2 separate regions of the Homo sapiens genome follow, and region 2 is linked to region 1. Evidence: fine-mapped expression QTL. A gene starts in region 1. The other region holds a variant in brackets. All regions are shown on one strand. Distances are between the middles of the regions. Region 1 holds the start of MCOLN2 (mucolipin TRP cation channel 2). Region 2 overlaps MCOLN2 (mucolipin TRP cation channel 2).

What was found. PIP is the estimated chance that this variant, and not a neighbour inherited with it, causes the effect.
Region 2: its variant is fine-mapped to the expression of MCOLN2 in blood mononuclear cells (TOPMed, PIP above 0.99).

Annotation. Positions count from the first base shown.
Region 1 is chr1:84,994,503-84,998,898 of GRCh38, reverse strand. MCOLN2 (mucolipin TRP cation channel 2) reads left to right here and starts at 1,786. Exons shown (of 14, transcript NM_153259.4): 1 at 1,786-2,103. The coding sequence starts at 2,027. RefSeq lists enhancers at 52-923, 3,244-3,303 and silencers at 1,494-1,783, 2,394-2,443.
Region 2 is chr1:84,932,375-84,936,770 of GRCh38, reverse strand. All of the region lies in intron 11 of MCOLN2 (mucolipin TRP cation channel 2), which reads left to right. Among named protein-coding and RNA genes, the nearest start is that of LPAR3, 41 kb to the right of the region's middle. The variant G/A (reference allele first, on the strand shown) is at 2,272.

The DNA.
Region 1 (4,396 bases):
ATCTTCCATGGAACCAGTCCCTGGTGCCAAAAGGTTGGGGTCTTACTATGTTGCCCAGGCTGGAGTGCAGTTACTATTCACAAAGCTGGATGATTGCGCACCTCCGATGAAAGGGGCTCAAAACCAAGGCATTTCTGCCTAATAACCCCTTGGAAGTGCCTTAAAAGAGGGTCAATTATGTGTGCTTTTATATACATCGTCTGTCCAACTGCTTCTGCCTGGACACGCATATTAAAATAATTACCTGGCAGAATATTCTTTGCCTGAGCTAAACCCGGAGATCTTTTAAACGCTTGCAGACTCACAGAGCCTGGCACTGCGGACTTTGCTGCTGCTACCTCGTGAAAAGGAGGGGTACGAGCTCTAGGAGGCTGTCGGCCACGTCCAAACTACCAAGCTAACATCACTAGGAGCCGAACACGGCTTTTGGTCATGTACTGACGACTCTCATCTCTAAGATTCACGAACGGCGACCGATTGTCTGTTCGATTTCCCACAGGCGTCTTCCTTTCGTGCACCAAGAGGGAAAAGCAACGGCGGCTGCAGCAGGGCGCTGGGGTTACGAGTCCAGCCCTGGGGCCGTGCGCCCTCCCTCCGCGCCCGCCGGGCCACGCTGACGCTCCCTCCCGGCTCCCTGCCTTTCATCCCGACGCGGGCGCAGGGCAACTCGCTTTTCCTATTCCTTGCGCGCCGGTCGCACTTTCTAACATCTCAGAAATATGGCCCTTGTCACAGACTTTCATGATCGTGCACTTTAGAGAAAAGCCAGAATGAATGAACTTGTCAGTTTAATGTGAAGTCCTCAAGGGAAAGGACCATGTCTTTGTCATCCCAGAGACCACAGTACCCAACGGTCGGCTTGGCTCTCAGTGAGTGTTTCCCTAAGCATCAAAACAGGAATGACCAAAGCAACGGACAAATTAATGCATGTGGAAACAAGAAATGAATGCATGAGAGAGTGAAGAAAAGAAGGGGCCAGGCGCAGCGGCTTACACCTGTAATCCTAGCACTTTGGGAGGCGGAGGCAGGAGAATCGCTTGGGTCCAGGAGTTCAAGACTGCAGTCAGCAGTGATCGCAGGTCAGGCGACAGAGTGAGACCCGGTCTCACCACCACCCCCCCGAAAAAGGCAGGAACCCCAGAGGGCCGGGAGTGCCAGGTGCGGCCGCCCGGGAGCGGTGTGGAGGGTGCGTGGGCCACTTTGCCGCAGGGCCCACCGCCCGGGTCCCTCTGTAAGGCGCTTCTCCGGCAGACACCCCGAGCCAAAGCGGGCCGTACCGCAGCGTTGGGCACTTGGGTGGAGAGTGCAAGGGCGGCGGGCCTGCGCCCAGACAGGTGTAGCCGTCCCACGCTAGGTGTCCTCCTGCCGCTCCCTGGCCGCGCCATGCCTCGAGGCATGGAGGTGCTGGACCTGCCGGTGTGCAACCGCGCCTCGGGCCTGTCCTGGGGGCCGCACCACAGGTCAGTGCCCCACGGCGCCCTTGGCGTGCCCCACGCCTCCCTGGGGGCCCCACCGCCGCCCCCTTTTGGGACTGCTTACTTCCTCGGCTCTTCTCGCGCGCGCCTCGGTTCCATCCCCTACGGCCCCCACCCCGCCTCCGCGTCGCCGACCCCCTTCTCCGGGAGCGCGGGGAGGCTGGTCCGCTGAAGCGTGGAATAAGTCCCCTAGGACCCCAACTGGGGAAGCTCCGGTCCCCGGTAGGAGGCGGCGGGGCGGGGCGGGGCGGGGCAGCCCCTTGGGGGCGGGGCGGGAGCGCCTGGCCACGCGCCGCATCCTGCAGGGTGCACACAGAGCCGCCTTTCAGCCGCCCGAGAACTGCCCGCCGCACTCCACGACTGCGGCGCCTGCTCTCGGGCCGGGGTCTGCGCGCACCACGCGGCCGGCAGAAAGGGTAAGAGAAGGGAACCCCGCTTTGCAGGGCTCCAACTTCGGCGGACGCGTTACGGCGAGGGCGAAATGAGTCGGCCGTGAACGGTGTTTCCTGTTCCGAATCCCGAGAGCCCTGGAAAGTTTTGAAGGAGGAGGCATGGCCCGGCAGCCTTATCGTTTTCCCCAGGCAAGGATTCCGGAGAGAGGATCAGGTGTTTTCAGGTTAACCGTCAGGTGAGGAGTCTGGGCTTCATCTTTCAGGATGCTGGACTGGAGAAATCTTCCTAAAGTCGATGGCTTTACTTTCGTAGACTAGAGCTTGCTTGCTGCCTTGGGAATGCTTATATTAACTGCTTGCAGTTAGTTAAATAAGGCTAGGCTGTGCCTTCCAGAACAAACAGGCCTTTCCCTCAGGTGGGAGGGTTGTAGTGTGGCTAACCCCAGTTCCTCGGCCTTTATGAAAAGGCGCACAGTTCAGCCGGTTGGCGCTGCCAGCGGGCCCCTCCTCCGTGGTCAAACCTCCAGCCACCCCAGCACAGTTGAGCCAAAGTTGTGAGTACAAACAGACCTTGGCTCCCCCGTTTCCTGCTCTCCAAACATATATATATATATATATATATATATATATATATATATGAAATATATACGTATGTGTAAGTGTGTGTGTCTCTGGTTGAACGGTACTTGTGGGAAACAAAATTGTGTGTCATTGTAAACTGAGAATGGAAGAAAAGGTTAGTAAGAGAAAGGTGGGAGAGGTTTCTTATGGGTGTCAGGATGTAGACTCTGATATTTTATGTAGAGGGAACCAACTACGTAGTTCTCCCCAGAAATGGGATGTGGGTTTCACTCTCAGGAGCTGCTCATCACCTTTGTGATGTGCTAACCAAAATCGCACAACTTTTGGGAAATTTGATAGCTTTCCCCTATTGAGTCAGAAGTTTCTTGAGACTTTAGCCTGTCTTCCTCTTCATACCTTAAGAGGAGTCAAACTCCCGTTGCCGTGAACTTTCCACAGGCACACCCTTCTCCTTTAGAAAACCGTTCATAGGTCAGTTTCTGTGGCCGGAACTCTAAAAACGACACATTTTCCATACAGAGGCCATCATAATACCAATTTTATTTAACCTCCTGTAATAAAAAATGAGTGAATCCTAATAAAGTGTTTGAGGTAGCCACATTCTTTTCTGTGAAGGAGGAACATATCAAAAGTGTTTTTTTTTAAAAAAATAGAGTAATAGATATAAAATATTTTAATGAAGCAAGTGAGAAGAACTGAGAGACATAGTTTGAGCAAAGGGGCACGAAATACAGAACTGAAAGTCAAGAATGATCATATTCACAAGCTGATCTCTTTGGCTATGTCTCTGTCAGTGAAGTGAAACCTAGAACAAGACAATTTTAAAACCGGCGGAAAAAGAGATGGCTTCTTGTGACTATAGCTTTCAAAGTAAAAGTAGTGGCCAAAGAAAACTCTTCTGGCTGTAAAAGTAAAAGTGGACTTTCCTGAAGCTGGGCTGTTTTCTTTAAGGCCTAGGGTCTAAGTTCCGTGTGTCAGTTCTGAAGAATTAAATCACTCTTTAGTGAGCTCTTGTGTCACATGTTAAGGGGTTCATAGAAAAAAGTGCAGGCATACCTTGTTTTATTGTTCTTTGCTTTATTGCACTTTGTAGATACTGCATTTAATTCAATTTTATTTTATTTTACAAATTGAAGGTTTGTGGCAACCCTGTGTCCAGCAAGTCTATTGGTGCCATTTTTCCAACAGCATGTGCTCACTTTGTGTCTCTATGTCACATTGTGGCAATTCTCTCAATATTTCAAACTTTTTCATCATTATTATTATATCTGTTATGGTGATCTGTGACCACTGATCTTTGATGTGACTACTGTAATTGTTTTGGGGTGCCATGAACTGTGCCCATATAAGACAGGGAACTCAATTAATAAATGTTGTATGTGTTCTGACTACTCCACCGACCAGCCATTCTTCTATCTCTTTTCCTCTCCCCAACCCTCTCTATTCCCTGAGACACCACAATATTGAAATTAGCCCAACTAATAACCCTACAGTGGTCTCTAAGTGTTTGAGTGCAAGGGACAATCACAGGTCTCTTACTTTAAAGGTAGGAGTGATTAAGCTTAGTGAGGAAGGTATGTTGAAAGCTGAGACAGACCAAAAGCTAGGCATTTTGTGCCATTTAGCCAAGTTTTGAATGCATATGAGATGTTCTTGAAGGAAATTATAAGTGCTACTCCAGTGAAAATACAAATGATAAGGAAGCAAAACAGCCTTATTGCTGTTATGGAGAAAGTTTTTGTGGTCTGGATAGAAGATCAAACCAGCACCAACATTCACTAAAGCTAAAGCATAATCTAGAGCAGGCCCAAACTCTCTTCAATTCTGTGAAGGCTGAGAGAGGTAATGAAGCTGCAGAAGAAAAGTTTCAAGCTAGCAGAGGTTGGTTCATGAGCTTTAAGAAAGGAAGCCATCTCTATAACATGTAAGTGCAAGGCGAAGCAGAAA
Region 2 (4,396 bases), 62 kb after region 1:
ACTGTTATACATGAATCTTAAACCTCCGTGCTGTCCTACCAGAATAATGTCGAGTAACCTGGAACACTCAGACTTTCTTCTTTTTAGGTGTCACATTTAATATGTCTAGAGAGAATTACTGTTTTTCCTATTTGAGATATTATATAATTAACAAAGTGACAACCTCTGGGTTGGTAGTAAATCTTGATAATATTGCTCTTCATACTCCATGTCACTGCTTTAAAGGTGACTCATGAGAAAAAATTATTCTTTGATATGATCTCTCTGATTTGGAGAACTTACTGTCTTAGAGCCTGGAAAAATGTATTTTTCTTCCTTGCTTGCCTCATGCTCTGAAAGCTTTTCCACCTCTTTGTCACTAGAGGGCAGTGTTGCACTGTGTGGAATAAATACCGTTCCTGAGGATTCGGCTTTAATTCACTGACTCCAAGGTCTGTGGACAAGTGGTCCCATCTCCTTTGCACCCCATCCCCGTCTCCCCTACCTCATCATTATTCTGGAAGGTGCTCAGATAAGATTGCTAGAATTTTACTAGATGGCTACCATTCTCAAGTGCTGTCTGTTAGGCATGGTGCCCAAGATTCTTCATCTCCCTTGCTGTGTTAACCCTTCCCTCCCCTTCTCTGTGAAGAAATCTGATTGTCCTGTTACAGAGAATAGGCACCTTAATATATTAAATAATATTCCTGAGATTACCCAGCTAGAAAGTGGCAGAGATGGGATTCAAACCCAGGTCGGCCTGACTCCAGTACCTGTGCTTTGACCCATACCCTGTAGAGCTTTTCTTGGTATTATCTAAAACAGATCATTGCAAGAGAGCATTTAGCCTGACAAGAAACAGTCTTGTACTTGGAGATCAACTGTGAGAGGACAGCCATGTAATCGGCTTCATTCTTTCAATGGTGTCAAGGTCACCTCATGGAAAATGAGGTTATTTGTTTTGTGAGCCTGACTGCATTTCCATATGTTCAATTTGTCCTTTCAAAGGATCCAGGTGAAACTGGGATGCTCTGAGCCAGCACTGTCCAAGAAAAATACAGTTTGGGCTACAATTGAGAGCCTTGCCTATACTGTAAAATTTTCTAGTAGCTACATGAAGAAATAAAAAAACAGATGAAATTATTTTTAATTATATATTTTAAGCCTAATATACCCAAAATATTATTTCAGCATGTATTCAGTATAAAATATTGAAATATTTTACATTCCTCCATACTAGTCTTTTTGATCTGGTGGATATTTTATCCACATAGCACGTCTCAATTTGGACTAGCTATCTATTGGATGCTGGCTATTCACACATTCCTGGTGACTACCACTATGGACATTGCAGCTCTAGACTTATGTCTTTCACTTAATGTTAGCTTTCCTTTATACCCCTGGAGGAGGGGAGGGATAAGGGATGTCTGTAGGGTTGCCTGCAGGTCTGTTTATGGCATCTCTCACCAGGCTGATATATTGGGGAAATACACAGCTGAGTTAATTCACTGAATGTACAAGTCAGTTGGGGGAGAGAACGTCAGTCTGGTTTTGGAACTTTGTGCTTTTCTTCACCATATTGCTGCCTCTTTGAATCTGAAGTTAGAATATTTTATTGCCCCTTGCATCCTTTCCCCCAAATTAATCCAAGCTGTCAGCATGTTCAGGTTCTGCCAGTATCTGAATCAGAGGACTTTCAGGTTACCTGAAGCCTTGAAAAGCTAGGCATTCCAAGCGGGCATTTTTGTGGGATTTTTAGAATCACAGCAACCTTGATTGTGAAAGCTAATTCTTTCTTTAAAACAAAACAACTAAAAAGGAGACATTAGGAAAACCGTTTGACTGATAGCTGGGGTCCCATAACACTTCAGCTTCCTATCTTCCTGTTAGGCATCTGATTTCAGGGGCTCAATGGAAAGGGAGTCAAGATGCAAAAGGCTTCCTGCTGATGTGTATTCCCAGCACTAATGGACTTTGGCACAGTGCCCTTTCAAAATGCCTGGGCACAGAGGGTGAGAGACTGTTGATGTTCTTCCAGACCTCATCTTGAATTATTAAACATTACTCTAATGCGGCTTTTACATTTCCAGAGGACTTTTTTTCCTGTGAGGAATAAATCATAGCCTTGCATTGTCCCCATTTTACAAATGAGAAGACCAAGACTTGAAAAGTTGTTGGACTTCACTGATGCCATGGGTCAAAGTTCAGCAGACTCTGCATTACATTTTCCTCCTTCCAAGCCCTCTGGTTTTAGCCAAGTACCCCTCAGCTAAAACATTTTGCCTAAAGTTT[G/A]CATGAGATTCTTGGCACCAGCTCTTAAAGCAAATATTTATGTTGTTCTCTGACATAAGCCATTGCAGGTTATGGTTTCATTGAAATTAAAGGTTTTTGGCCCAACTGCAAACTTATCATTTGTGAAATGAATGGTTGAGTTCTCATCGTGGGCCCAGAGAACCTATGGGGACTCTTTATGGAAATACCCATTTAATACGTATTAAATATCTACTGTGCACCCAACATTGCTAGGTTCTTGTAGACCAAGTTCTTGGAGGGAAGGAACTGTAGTTTGTTCCTCTTTACATTCCCAGTGTCCAGCACAGCACATAGACCATGGTAGGTGCCCAAAAAGTTTGTTTTGAACAAACAAGAAGCAGAGAGAGAGTAGTACCTGCTTTCCAGGGGCTTATGATCACTCAAGATCCAAAGGAATGCCTTACAAATGTGGTCCTTCTAGACTGGAAGCACATTAGGACCTTGAGTATTTTTAAGCTCACTTCTACTATGGAATTTGGCCACTGAAATAGACTCTGGTTCACAGCCACTTCTTGTACAAAATGGCAGGGTGTTACCAAACACCTAAAATTGACTGGGTCTCTGTTTTAACTCTTTGGTGTGTTAAAATAATTCTCATGTTCACAAGAGGAGGGGGAGGTAAAATGGTTATGAATAATGTTAATGTTGAGACAGATATTGTGTGTAGCCTGGTAAGTAACTAAACAGAAAATTAAAAAATGAATGTGACATGTACTGACAAACTAGCTATTTGCAGTTGAAACCTGAAGCACAGACAGTTGTGCTTGGAGTTAGGGGTTCTTGAAACTAGAGAAAGGAGTTGACTGGATTCCAAAAGAAACTAAGAAATGTGAATTATTAATGGTGCTGTCAGAGTTGTAGTTGACATCCATAGAAACCAACTTTAATGTCAATGTTTTCAGCTTTAACTTCAATGTTTTAAGGCTTGTGTAGCGTATGGAAAATATTTACTCTGGCAATCGCCTGTTTTACTGTTAAATAATCTACATATTGTTAAGTGATCTGTTCATTTGGATATTTCCTCTAGGTCTTTTTGGAGGAGGACTTTAGTTCATCAGAGTTTTTGCTGATGCAGCAAAGCCATGGGTGGGATCCTTGTTTGGGGTGCGTTTGTAGACCTTCTCCCTTGGCCACCAACTTTACCTTGCCTGGTCCAGCCACGTGGCTGGTAGTGTAAGGCACGGTGTTTGTATCTAGTTGGAGTACAGGGAAGTGTGTATAAAAACAATTAGAAGACCATAGTTCATTCTGTGATTCTTACCGATACGGAGTGCAGAGAAAGGACTAGAACTACCAGGGCACTTGGTCTTGAAGTACACTCTGAAATGACCCTTGAACATTGGCTTAATTGGACACAGAGAAGAGAAAGAAGAATAGAGCAGGTGAGGAGAATAAATTCCATGAGGGAAAAATGTAGGGATGGGCCTGGTGTTGGAGGAGAAGATAAGCACAGCATATTAATACTGTCAAGGAGGAGATGTGATGAGGCTGCATAAAGGAGGAACTTATCACAACCTTCTTGGTTTAGATTTTTATTTTGCATCCAAACTTTGTATAATCTCACAAGGGAGAAATGACCTGAAAGCCTTCTTCTTAAAGTACAGGTTTTACTGCAGCTTTGACTGGGGAGGGTAAAGAGATTGGAGTAAAAGAGACTTCCTTGGAAGTTTCTTTAATAATTCAGAAATTTGTGTTGACATCACAGTAGAGTAGTAAGGGTGGATTGGAGAAACATGTGATAGGAACAGACAGGCCTTAGAAGACTGAAAGCGGGGAAGAGTAATCAATTCAACACAGAGTTTTAAGGACTTAATTATTTCAGAGTAAATGTTTCTTTGGTAGGAGATTGGAATCACTGACAGAAATAGGGCAATTTAGAAAAAAAAGTTCATTTTTCTGGTTAGGGTGGTGAAAAGTTTTGTTTTGTTGGCATTTTCAAGGAATGGTCTGTTATATAACAAATGCCAGCTGAGCACAGTGGCTCATGCCTGTAATCCAAGCACTTTGGGAGGCTGAGGTGGGCGGATCACCTGAGGCCAGGAGTTCGAGACCAGCCTGGCCAACATGGTGAAACCCCATCTCTACAAAAAAATACAAAAATTAG